Linked DNA regions of Homo sapiens. The protein of the gene in region 3 interacts with the protein of the main gene of each other region in a biochemical or structural test. Each region holds a gene or a part of one and is shown on either strand. Other genes may lie near its edges. The genes, in order: TFAP2A, ROBO4 and PPARG.

Region 1 (3,650 bases), on a different chromosome or scaffold from region 3:
CTCCGGCGCGAGTTGCCTCTCCGCTTCACGCTCGATTTCCAGGCATTCTTCCCTTATTAAGTATTCGTGTAATATTAATAGTCATGAATATCTGCTATTAGGAGGCTCCAGGAACGCTGCCCAGCGCGGTTATTAGAAGCTCAAGCGAAGCCGCCGCTAAGAAAAGAGGGGGAGACACGGATTAAGGAACACGCACGCACCCACACACTCACACATACTTTTTCCTTTTTCCTTTTTTGGGGTTTTTCATTTTTAAAGAACTTTGAATCATAACCAGTCGCGGCAGGATAGAGACCGTGGGTTCGACCAGCTGAAGGCGCCGCGCGAATCGGTGGTTCAAGTTCGGATGGATCCGAGCCGGGCTCCCGCGCTCCGGGGAGCGTCGGCGCCGTGACTGGAGTCCTGGGTGGCGCGGGGCTCTCGGCGCCTTTTGTGTGGGGCGCGCTCGGGCGGCGGGGCAGCCGGGCGCTCCAGGCTTGCTTGTTTTTTTCCACCCTGACTCGTTACCCCAGACTCTTCGCAGATGTTAGTTCACAGTTTTTCAGCCATGGTGAGTCCCATCCCCACCCCCGTTGCTGTTTCTTTAGGAATTGGATTCTGGAAACCTGGTGCCGTGGAGCTGCCCGAAACCTCGGGTTTCACGCCCAGCTTTCCTTCAGGACACCCTCTCCATTTGCATCCCCCACCCCACCTTCCGCCTTTCTCTCGCTCTTTTCCATCCCTAAATCGAGTGCATTACCCCCTACCCCAGCCCCCGCTCGACCTCTCCGAGCACGCAGACCTACCTCGCCGCGGCTTCCCAAGGCGTGTTTCTCCCCACGTTCATCTTGATTTCCTTGAGTCTTCACTTGTCCCCGAGATGTTCTCAACATTTGATGCTTAAACTGTCTGCAGGAAAAGTGCAGCGCGGTGTGCCCCCTACCCTCGGGACCTGCGGCCGAACCGCCGAGGGTTCGCGGTCTCTGGAATCAACTCTCTTCGCTTGTTTTGCAAGGGAATTGCAATAGAGAAACCTAAAGTCAGGCGTTTCTTCTGCCCTTTGGGGCTGGGGTGGAAGGGGCGGGGGGGGGGGGCCACAGCCCCGGGGTGCACCTCTCTCTTTTAAACCCAATAAGGCTGAATCTTTCTATTTTAAACCTTGACTTGACGTCCCCCTTTCCCTATCCAAACCATAAATCGACTCTGTCGAGAAAAAGGCTCCTAACAGAGGAAGCGAAAAAGACAGACCCCGATCCTGCAGTTAAAACCTTCTTTAAGCTGGTAATTTAAACGTGTGTTTTTGTTACAGCCCCTCTGCGAAATATGTTTCTATTTAAGTAGTCATGAAACGGTAACAGTCTTTGAACGTTTATGATTTTTTTCTCTCCAAATAAATGGAAGAGAATAAACAATAACGCAGTGGCAGACAGGTTCAAATCGGGGGAAAAGAAAAGGCCGCTTCTGCTGTTTAGTATTTAGGAGGAATTTTAATTTTGCTTAAGAGAGATTTCACGCTGCAGTTTAATGGGCTGTGTTCCAGGAGACCCTTTTCTATCTTTTCCTCTCTTTGAAAGAAACCCCTAAATAGTCTCTTGTGCCCCCTCCATATACAGTTTCTCTGCGTTGTTCGGTCTGTTTCACTTGAGGGTATTTCCTGAAAAGAACTTAGAGCTGATTTTTTCCCGGCGGCCAGCCAACGGGAACGGGCGATTTCCCACGCAGACTTGTCAAGTGGATTTTGTGTGGATAGTTGTAGCTCGACGCCTGATTCCTTGTTCTTTACCTTTCCTCTCGCTCTCTTCTAGGACCGTCACGACGGCACCAGCAACGGGACGGCACGGTTGCCCCAGCTGGGCACTGTAGGTCAATCTCCCTACACGAGCGCCCCGCCGCTGTCCCACACCCCCAATGCCGACTTCCAGCCCCCATACTTCCCCCCACCCTACCAGCCTATCTACCCCCAGTCGCAAGATCCTTACTCCCACGTCAACGACCCCTACAGCCTGAACCCCCTGCACGCCCAGCCGCAGCCGCAGCACCCAGGCTGGCCCGGCCAGAGGCAGAGCCAGGAGTCTGGGCTCCTGCACACGCACCGGGGGCTGCCTCACCAGCTGTCGGGCCTGGATCCTCGCAGGGACTACAGGCGGCACGAGGACCTCCTGCACGGCCCACACGCGCTCAGCTCAGGACTCGGAGACCTCTCGATCCACTCCTTACCTCACGCCATCGAGGAGGTCCCGGTAAGAGGCCGCGCAACCAGCGCGGGAGGGAACACAGCCCCCTACTTACCTACCCCAGAAAGGATACCTGGAACATACAGTCGGTGGGCCCGGGTTCTCCCTAGTATTTCCTTATAAAAACATTTTATTCGGAGGCGGAGAGTGAGGGACGTTTTGAGGAACCACACAAAGTAGTTGCGAGTTCTACCCCAGAACAATGGTTTCTGGAGCTCCCTCAAACAATGCCTGCATTACCATTTCCACCAACACAGATAAATCAGACGAATGTCACCATTAACAATATCTTCCTCTCGACGACAGTAAACTGTCTCAATTGCTAAAAGATCTACTTCCATCGCTGAGTCTGGCGTGGAGATTTCTCCCTGTCCTGGGAATGATGTTAAATGCAACCAAAAGAGCTCATTAAATGTCCTCAAAATGTAAAAGGAAGTGTAAAAGACACACTAAGATCATTTTAACCGGATTTTATAAGCACAAGTGAAACCTAAAAGTTATGTGTACACCCTATCCTGATTAAAGAAAAACTAAGTAGCAAATCCAAGCAGAGGGACATTAAAATGCAGCCTTCTTCTTACTAGGGGTGCTAAGTGGTGACCTCATAAATCATTAGCTAGGTTCCCAACGCCTATCAGAACCTGCTACACTCCATATTAAATTAAATGTTTCGAGACTATTGGGTAATACATTATTTGAGTTCTAATTTAGTTATCAATAAATGCAGTTTAAAATGATTTCTAAATAAGCATGGCATTAGCACATTTACTATTTACAATGCAAACCAGGCTATTGATAATTTGAAAATACTTTCTGGAATTAAACTTAAACCAGTACCTCTGCTTCAATTCTATATATTTATGGTTTCCTCACAACCCTCCTGAAATGGAATTAGAGCAAGCCAATAATTTTATTAAAGCTGTAAAGGCTTCTGTTAAAGCTGCTTTTCTTTGGAGAGGAAATGTATCTGGATGTGATTTTTACTAAAATGCTATTTCAAATTACTGCATCAAATATTGCAGCAGTATGTCCGTTGACAGTTTAATGATTACTACATTAGATTGTAAGGAAAATGGTCAGATGAACTTACCTCCTTGCTTGGTGAATTTAAAACATTATTTAAGTTCCGTAGGAAAATAGAAAATTTATTACATCTCTCATTTGGCCCAGTTAGTCACTGAAATTTGTTGGTTATGTTTAGCAGCCCTTGCATGGAAGGCAGGAAAGTGGGCACTTGATCCAGTATAAGGTTTAGTGAGCACTGTATGTCTGTATATGTGTGTTCATACTTACATGTTTTTAGAAACTGATACTTAACAGTGCATTTTTTTGGAAGTGAGAGGAGCACTAATTTATATAAGAGCAATTTAAACATGAACTGGGAGTTATGATTATTTTAGTTCCCTTTCCCAAAGCACTCTGAATCTTTTCCTTGCT
Region 2 (3,750 bases), on a different chromosome or scaffold from region 3:
TTGCTGTGTCCTGAGACTCCCGGGGTTTTCATTCCTCTCTAGCAGGTGGTAAAGGGATAAGGATTGGGATCCAGGGATAAGATTTAAATAGAGGATTAAGGCTCTGATTGGAGTTATGGTTAGTGTAAGGATACACCCACAGAATTTGGGGTAGGAATTGGGGCCAGAGAACAGAATTTGGGATTTCAGAATTAGAGGTGCCAAGGGTAGTGACATTCTGTTCTCTGGCCCCAATTCCTATCCTTCCAGCTCTGCCACTCCATGACTTTCACTCTGCCTATTCTTTAGCCTCTGCAAACTCCCCAGTTTGTAGAGACCATGGTGTTTCCTTGCTCCAGTTCTGTCTTTGTCAGTATTGGTCTGAGTTTGAGAGGAAAGAGGAGGAGTGAAGGAGACTTCTACTTGGCAGGCTGTTAGTCTGTGGCTGGCACCGAAGCCAGGATGGGAAGGGGGAGGAAGGGAGGGCGTCAGCTGGGTTAGGGGCCCTGCAGAGAAGCTGGCCAGGAACAATTGGGAACAAAGGCTGGATACTCTTCCGCTGAGCCCCAGAGCCTGGCCTTGGCCTTCCGGGAACAGCTCCAGGAAATGGCTGAGATTCCAGATTTGGAAGGAAGAGGCCAGTAAACATGAGCTGGGATCTGACAGGGGAGTGTGGCCTCTGTCTAGGTTGTGGGGGAAAGGAGGCAGCGGGCAAGAGCTGACATTGTAGGCTCAAAACCTGCAAGGCCTGTCTGCTACATATATGGACACAGGCTCTTGGGACTGGAAAGACTCTTAAAAGGTCTTTTACTCCAACCACCTTTCCAGGGCCTGAAAAATACTCCTGCCGAGGATCCTCCAATAGTTTCAGTGATGGGATGGGCCTAAAAAGAAATACACAATGTTGGCTCAGCTTTACGGATCACTCATAATGAGTCAGGCACTGGATGCCAGTGGTTTTATGCTTTATGTGTTTCATCATTACTTTATCCCTCAAGGTAGGAACTACTATTATTATTTCCATTTTACAGAGAAGGAAACTGACTTGCCCAAGTTCTCCACAGAAGCTTATTTCATCCATCTCTGAGCTGAATATGGACACACCCTGTGGTAATCTCCCAGCTTGTCCCAGATGCTGAGTCCTTCCTGTCTCCCACCCTACGCCACCTCCTGGTCCATCTGGCACTGGGGAAATGGATGAGGGTGTTACAATCCACCCCTGCTCCACTTCACTCAGCCTCCCCAGCCTGCAGCCCCACTGCCCTCTGTCTTCAGCTTCTTGCTGTGTCCTGAGACTCCTGGGGTTTTCACTCTTCTCTAGCAGGTGTCAAAGGGATAAGGATTGGGATCCAGGGATAAGATTTAAATAGAGGATTAAGGCTCTGATCGGAGTTTTGGTTAGTGTAAGGATACCCTGTAAGAAATCCCCGAGTAGATCATGAGATAAAGCTTAGCGCTGAAGTTAGGGTCGGGGGTTATAGCTAAATGGTCGAGGTCAGAGAGTTTCTCGCCTCTGGTCTCCTCCCAGTTCTCCAAGGCACTGAGGGCCAGGCAGGAAGCATCGGTTTCCTCAAAGCCGCTTCCCTCCTGGGGCAGAGTCTCGGTCACAAACAACCACCACCGGCCCACCCCGCCCCTCCTTCCCTCTTCACTGTGAGCTCAGAGCAGCAGGACAAAGTGCTCGGGACAAGGACATAGGGCTGAGAGTAGCCATGGGCTCTGGAGGAGACAGCCTCCTGGGGGGCAGGGGTTCCCTGCCTCTGCTGCTCCTGCTCATCATGGGTGAGTTGCTCTCCCTCTCCTGGCCCATGCTCCTCCATCCAAGGCCTGCTCAGGGCAGAAGGGGCCTGCTGACTGCCTGCTTCCCTTTTGCAGTGGGGGGACCAGAGATGAGGATGAGGATGATGATGATGAGTGTGTGTAAGTGTATGTGTGTTTGTGCATGTGCGCACACACCAGAGAGAGAAAGAAGGAAAGAGAGACTGAGAGAGAAAGAAAGAAAGAGAGAAAGTAAGAGAGAGAGAGAGAGAGAGAGAGCGAACATGCTATGCAAGCCCTGGCCTGGATGCTGTGCATGCTGGCCCTCTCTCCTCCTAGCTGGCTTGTTCTTTGGGAGGCAACCTTTAGTAGTTCAGATTACAGGTTTTCTGGCAAACTCGCACACAAGAGAAGACAGATGAGGGGTGGGCCAGGAATTTGGGGTGTTGCTGGTGATCAGACTGGGCTCTGCTCCCTTTCCCTCCCAGGAGGCATGGCTCAGGACTCCCCGCCCCAGATCCTAGTCCACCCCCAGGACCAGCTGTTCCAGGGCCCTGGCCCTGCCAGGATGAGCTGCCAAGCCTCAGGCCAGCCACCTCCCACCATCCGCTGGTTGCTGAATGGGCAGCCCCTGAGCATGGTGCCCCCAGACCCACACCACCTCCTGCCTGATGGGACCCTTCTGCTGCTACAGCCCCCTGCCCGGGGACATGCCCACGATGGCCAGGCCCTGTCCACAGACCTGGGTGTCTACACATGTGAGGCCAGCAACCGGCTTGGCACGGCAGTCAGCAGAGGCGCTCGGCTGTCTGTGGCTGGTGAGGCCTGGGAGGGGAGCTTCAGGGTGGGGCAAACCTGGGTGGAGACATCTGAGCTGAATGTTCAAGGGAACATCTGAGAGGTCAGTGGGATACCTGTGAGCAGAGGCCTGGGCTGGAAGGCTTGGGAGGGCAAGCTGGGGCGGGGCTGGCCCTAAATGGGAGGCCAGGAAGGTGGGCAAAGCAGAAGGGGGCAAGAGTGATAAGGGAGAGAGAAGAGGCCTGGGCCCTGCTCCGTGTCACCTTCCATCCTCCCCACAGTCCTCCGGGAGGATTTCCAGATCCAGCCTCGGGACATGGTGGCTGTGGTGGGTGAGCAGTTTACTCTGGAATGTGGGCCGCCCTGGGGCCACCCAGAGCCCACAGTCTCATGGTGGAAAGATGGGAAACCCCTGGCCCTCCAGCCCGGAAGGCACACAGTAAGTGTGGCCCCCTCCCCCACACTTCATCCTGGCCTGGGCAGACCTGGGTACACCCTGATGGACTGACCTGCCGTCCAGCCCCGCATCCTCCGGTAGAATTTGAGGAGGGGAGAGCAGGGGGCCTCAAACTTCCCCCCAGCTCAGAGCCCCTCCCCACATAGGAGACTTCACAGTGAACCTGGCCCTGACAGGTGTCCGGGGGGTCCCTGCTGATGGCAAGAGCAGAGAAGAGTGACGAAGGGACCTACATGTGTGTGGCCACCAACAGCGCAGGACATAGGGAGAGCCGCGCAGCCCGGGTTTCCATCCAGGGTAAGGGCAGGGGTGGGCTACAATCAGAGCCAGGCTGCAGGCTCCAGTTGGGGTGGTGTATTCTGGTTTGGGCTGGGGTTAAGGTATGTGGGGTCAGGGTCAAAGTGCTGGGGGTCTCACGTAGCGGGAGGTTCCCCCCTGCTAGAGTAGAAATCGGAATGCTCAAGACCTGGAGACTCTGGGAGTTTGGGTTCCCTGGGGTTCCTCCCTGGCTGAGGGATGTTCCACGCCTCAGTTCTGTCACTCTGGCCTATAAGCCCCAGCCCAGCCCTATCCTCCCCACAGAGCCCCAGGACTACACGGAGCCTGTGGAGCTTCTGGCTGTGCGAATTCAGCTGGAAAATGTGACACTGCTGAACCCGGATCCTGCAGAGGGCCCCAAGCCTAGACCGGCGGTGTGGCTCAGCTGGAAGGTGAGGACCAGGTGCTAAGGGTAAAAGCCGATCCAGAGCTCAAGAAAG
Region 3 (3,650 bases):
GGGGGGCAGAGCAAGTAACATCGATGAAAATTTACTGTATTTTTCCAGAACGTCAGGTTCTAATTATGAGAAAAATGTGAATGGATAATGATGCTTTCACAGAACCTAGAGAAAACGTGTTTCTTGTCCTCCAGGCATTTTACAGTGTATTATAATTTATATTAATGAAATATTTACTTTCTTTTTCTAAAAAAAAATTATTTCATTTTTTGAGATGAGGTCTTGCTATGTATGTTGCCTGGGCTGGTCTTGAACTCCTGGGCTCAAGTGATCGTCCTGCTTTGGCCTCCCTAAGTGCGTGCTAGGATTACAGGTGTGAGCCACCACAACTAGCCTTTATTGGCTTTCTTTCATGTCATGAGAAAATGATGATCTGGACACCTGAAAAGACCAACTGCACATGCAGGAGTACAAATAACATGAATATAAAATCATCACCTTTTCACATGTGGAAAGACTGTACCCAGAACTGCCCACTTCAACTTTCAGAGCTTCTGCTCAACCATTTGGCTTCTTGGCACAGAACATATGCATGAAATTCTTTCACCTCCATGTAAGTGATTTATCTGGAACTATGCCCTGATAAATCACCCTTGTCACTCTTCCCCTTTACTTCCCCTGTCCCCTCATATAAAGCTCCAGGTTCCTGTTTTTGAAACTCTGTAATAGTTGAACATAGGGCACAAAATCCTGCTAATTTTCTCTCCCAATTTAACAACAATGTGACTTTAACCCCTTGGCAATTGATGTTGGTCAGGATTTCCTGGCAGTAAATACTCAAGGACAGAGAGAGGAATCAGCACCCCACCATCATGCCAAACCATTTCATTTTTTTTTTTTTTTTTTTTTGAGATGGAGTTTTGCTCCTGTTGCCCAGGCTGGAGTGCAATGGCGCAATCTAGGCTCACTGCAACCTCCACCTCCTGGGTTCAAGTGATTCTCCTCAGCCTCCAGAGTAGCTGGGATTACAGGCACCCACCACCACGCCCGGCAATTTTTTTTAAATTTTTTTATTTTTTAGTATAGACGGGGTTTCACCATGTTGGCCAGGCTGGTCTTGAACTCCTGGCCTCAGGTGATCCACCCACCTCTGCCTCACAAAGTGATGGGATTACAGGCATGAGCCACCATGCCCGGCCCCATTCCAGCTTTTTCAATCCTTTCTGCATTCTGAAGAAGAGGTGAACTAGCAGAGAATTCTGGGTGTTGACATGCAAATGAACACCAGTTGTTTTATTTTTTCCCTAGTCATATCTGATTATACTGTTTTCACTGCATTTCCGAAGGCTGCATAGATTCTTTCAGCCTCCAGGTAGATCTGTCAAACTGCAAGAGTGATCCCTGGGTGGGCCTGGTCTGCCTTTCTTTGCAACCAATTCACCAATTCTTAGATAGCAGAGAGTTCACTTTCATATTTCACAGGGGACCTCCTTACCCTCAAACCTAGTGAGAAGATCGTGGCCAGCCTGCTTTATGGAGAGAGAACCTCTTAAAACCCTGGTCAAATTTGGTCTGCATTTTATCTTGAATCATTAATTTAACATGACATTTGGTACAATGTGGTACAATGTTCCATACAAAATGTACTGCACTTCCATGGCTGTTTTTTTGTATTTTTTACAAAGCAAAGTGGAGTCCTTACACTTTCCATCAGCTTGGACAGTATCATCCAAAGATTGCCATTATAGGAGCCGTATCATTCTCAAATTTTGTCTTAATGATTTTACACTTCTAGTTGGGGGCTAACAGTGTATTTATCTTCAGACCGTACATCAAAGGGCTGGGTAAGCGTCCCTCCTTAACAGGAAAGAAAGCTTAATTACAAATGGGACATGATGGGGTGAATTCAGGTTTTGTGGGGCATAAAATATACACAGTAGTGGAGTCTCTCTAAGGAAAATATTACAAATTATGAGAATAAAATTGCTTCGGCCCTTCCCCAAGCACTGGAAGGACTTCTGCACAAGGGAAGGGCCCCATGAAGCTTCATTAGCTTCATGGTGAATCTGTCACTGGTCATTGTGTGCTTGTGCTTTTCATATACTGGACAGACCAGAACGGAATGAAGAAAGCTGCACTTGAACCCAGTGTTTTTCCAGGAAAGCAAAATGATTTCTGTAAGGAGAAATCAATTTTTTGAGGGATACATCAAATATAATTAATTTTGATATATTTCAATTTTCAATATTTTGACATTTTGATTTTCAATTTTGACATATTTTGATTTTCAAAAATATATTTTGATTTTCAGGATGGGATTAAAAGTACTGTTTTATATAGATGAGTAAATTCAATTATAGATCTATGGCATGCTTCCTATGTAGAATACAAAGACAATGGGGGAAATGGGATTAATGATGAAAATAGAGTAATTAATTTTTTTTTTACCTTTTTGAATGGAGAAATAGAACAGTAGTGTTCCTGAGAAATCCAATAACATCAGCATTTTAACATGAGTTATGAAAGGTATTATACATGAATGCCCTAAGTTTACACTCCTTTTGAATAACAAAATAGCAAGCTACGGGAGATAAACATGAAAATCACTCAAAAAGCACAGGGTATTCTGGGTGACTTTTCTAATTTGGCAGATTGAATGAGTGTAGTCAACCCCTCTACCCTCTCTCAAACAATCACTTGAGGTAACCCTGTCAGAGTGAAAACTGGCTTGGAAAAATGTGTGCCTCATCGAGTGTGGCTTTCCTGATGTTCTTAGTTTTACCAGGGAAAGACACTGAATTCTTAGGGCTCATGTTCTTCATTTTGTTTCCTTCTTGCTTTTTACACATCTGACTTTCATCACCTTTGACACACCTGGTTCTCCTCGGTTAGCTACAATCCAAAACTCATTGGTTTGGTTTCCTCAGCCTCTCGTTGGTTTCTGCCCCTGTTGTTCCCGTTTCCCTCTTGTTGAGAACTATGAGATTTATAGGACATAAGGGGTCTTCAGAAGTAATCTGTCCCATCATTCTCTGACTAATGGATAAACGGAAGCCAGAGACATTCCAAAGTCAAAGTGCCATTTATAGCAAACCAGGAACTAGAACCTAAGCCCCGATTCTGGGTTGAGAACTTTTCCCTTTCCATTGCTTTCTATAGGACTTCCCCACTTCTTTTTTTCCTTTTAAAATGATTGTTCTAGGATGAACTGGAGATTTTAAACTAACGCTCTTAACATGCTGGGGTCTTGGGGCAGGGCCTTTTGAACCACTGTTTCCTAGAGGTGCTGGTGGAGTGCTGTGTGTGATAGAAGTGAAGTTTGAAAGCTGTCAAAGATATTCTGCTTTCCTGCAGGGTTTAGAGATTTACGACAAACAAATGAAAACTTAATATGAAGAATTATTCACATGCTAATGAACTAGCACATAACCACAGCTCTTAAAAAAATCAATTGCCAGCCAAAGAGTTACTCAGCAGGCAAACAAGGGTATTGGCCAACTGAGTCCAGCCATTGGAAAAAAAAAATCCAAGTGCTTTTCTTTTTAACTCTATAAAATATTATTTTTAACTTATTCTCTGAAAGAACACACTGGTTTAGATCTTTTACATCTTTAGCTATTCCTGACAGTCCTGGCAATAGAAGAATTTATTTTATTAATATTGATACATGGATGAATGATCCCAGAAGCCTAACTTCTCCAGCAGCCCCA

What was found.
Region 1: the proteins of PPARG (region 3) and TFAP2A form a complex in vitro, tested with the Homo sapiens proteins (one study listed by BioGRID).
Region 2: the proteins of PPARG (region 3) and ROBO4 form a complex in vitro, tested with the Homo sapiens proteins (one study listed by BioGRID).

The regions. Positions count from the first base shown.
Region 1 is NC_000006.12:10,408,470-10,412,119, reverse strand, and holds part of TFAP2A (transcription factor AP-2-alpha), read left to right. Parts: exon of another isoform or gene 1-523; coding exon of another isoform or gene 524-550; intron 551-1,784; coding exon 1,785-2,219; intron 2,220-3,650.
Region 2 is NC_000011.10:124,895,737-124,899,486, reverse strand, and holds the start of ROBO4 (roundabout homolog 4 isoform 1 precursor), read left to right. Parts: upstream 1-1,621; 5' UTR 1,622-1,691; coding exon 1,692-1,761; intron 1,762-2,225; coding exon 2,226-2,555; intron 2,556-2,816; coding exon 2,817-2,974; intron 2,975-3,168; coding exon 3,169-3,289; intron 3,290-3,574; coding exon 3,575-3,702; intron 3,703-3,750.
Region 3 is NC_000003.12:12,411,016-12,414,665, reverse strand, and holds part of PPARG (peroxisome proliferator-activated receptor gamma), read right to left. Parts: intron 1-3,650. UniProt on the Homo sapiens protein: Nuclear receptor that binds peroxisome proliferators such as hypolipidemic drugs and fatty acids.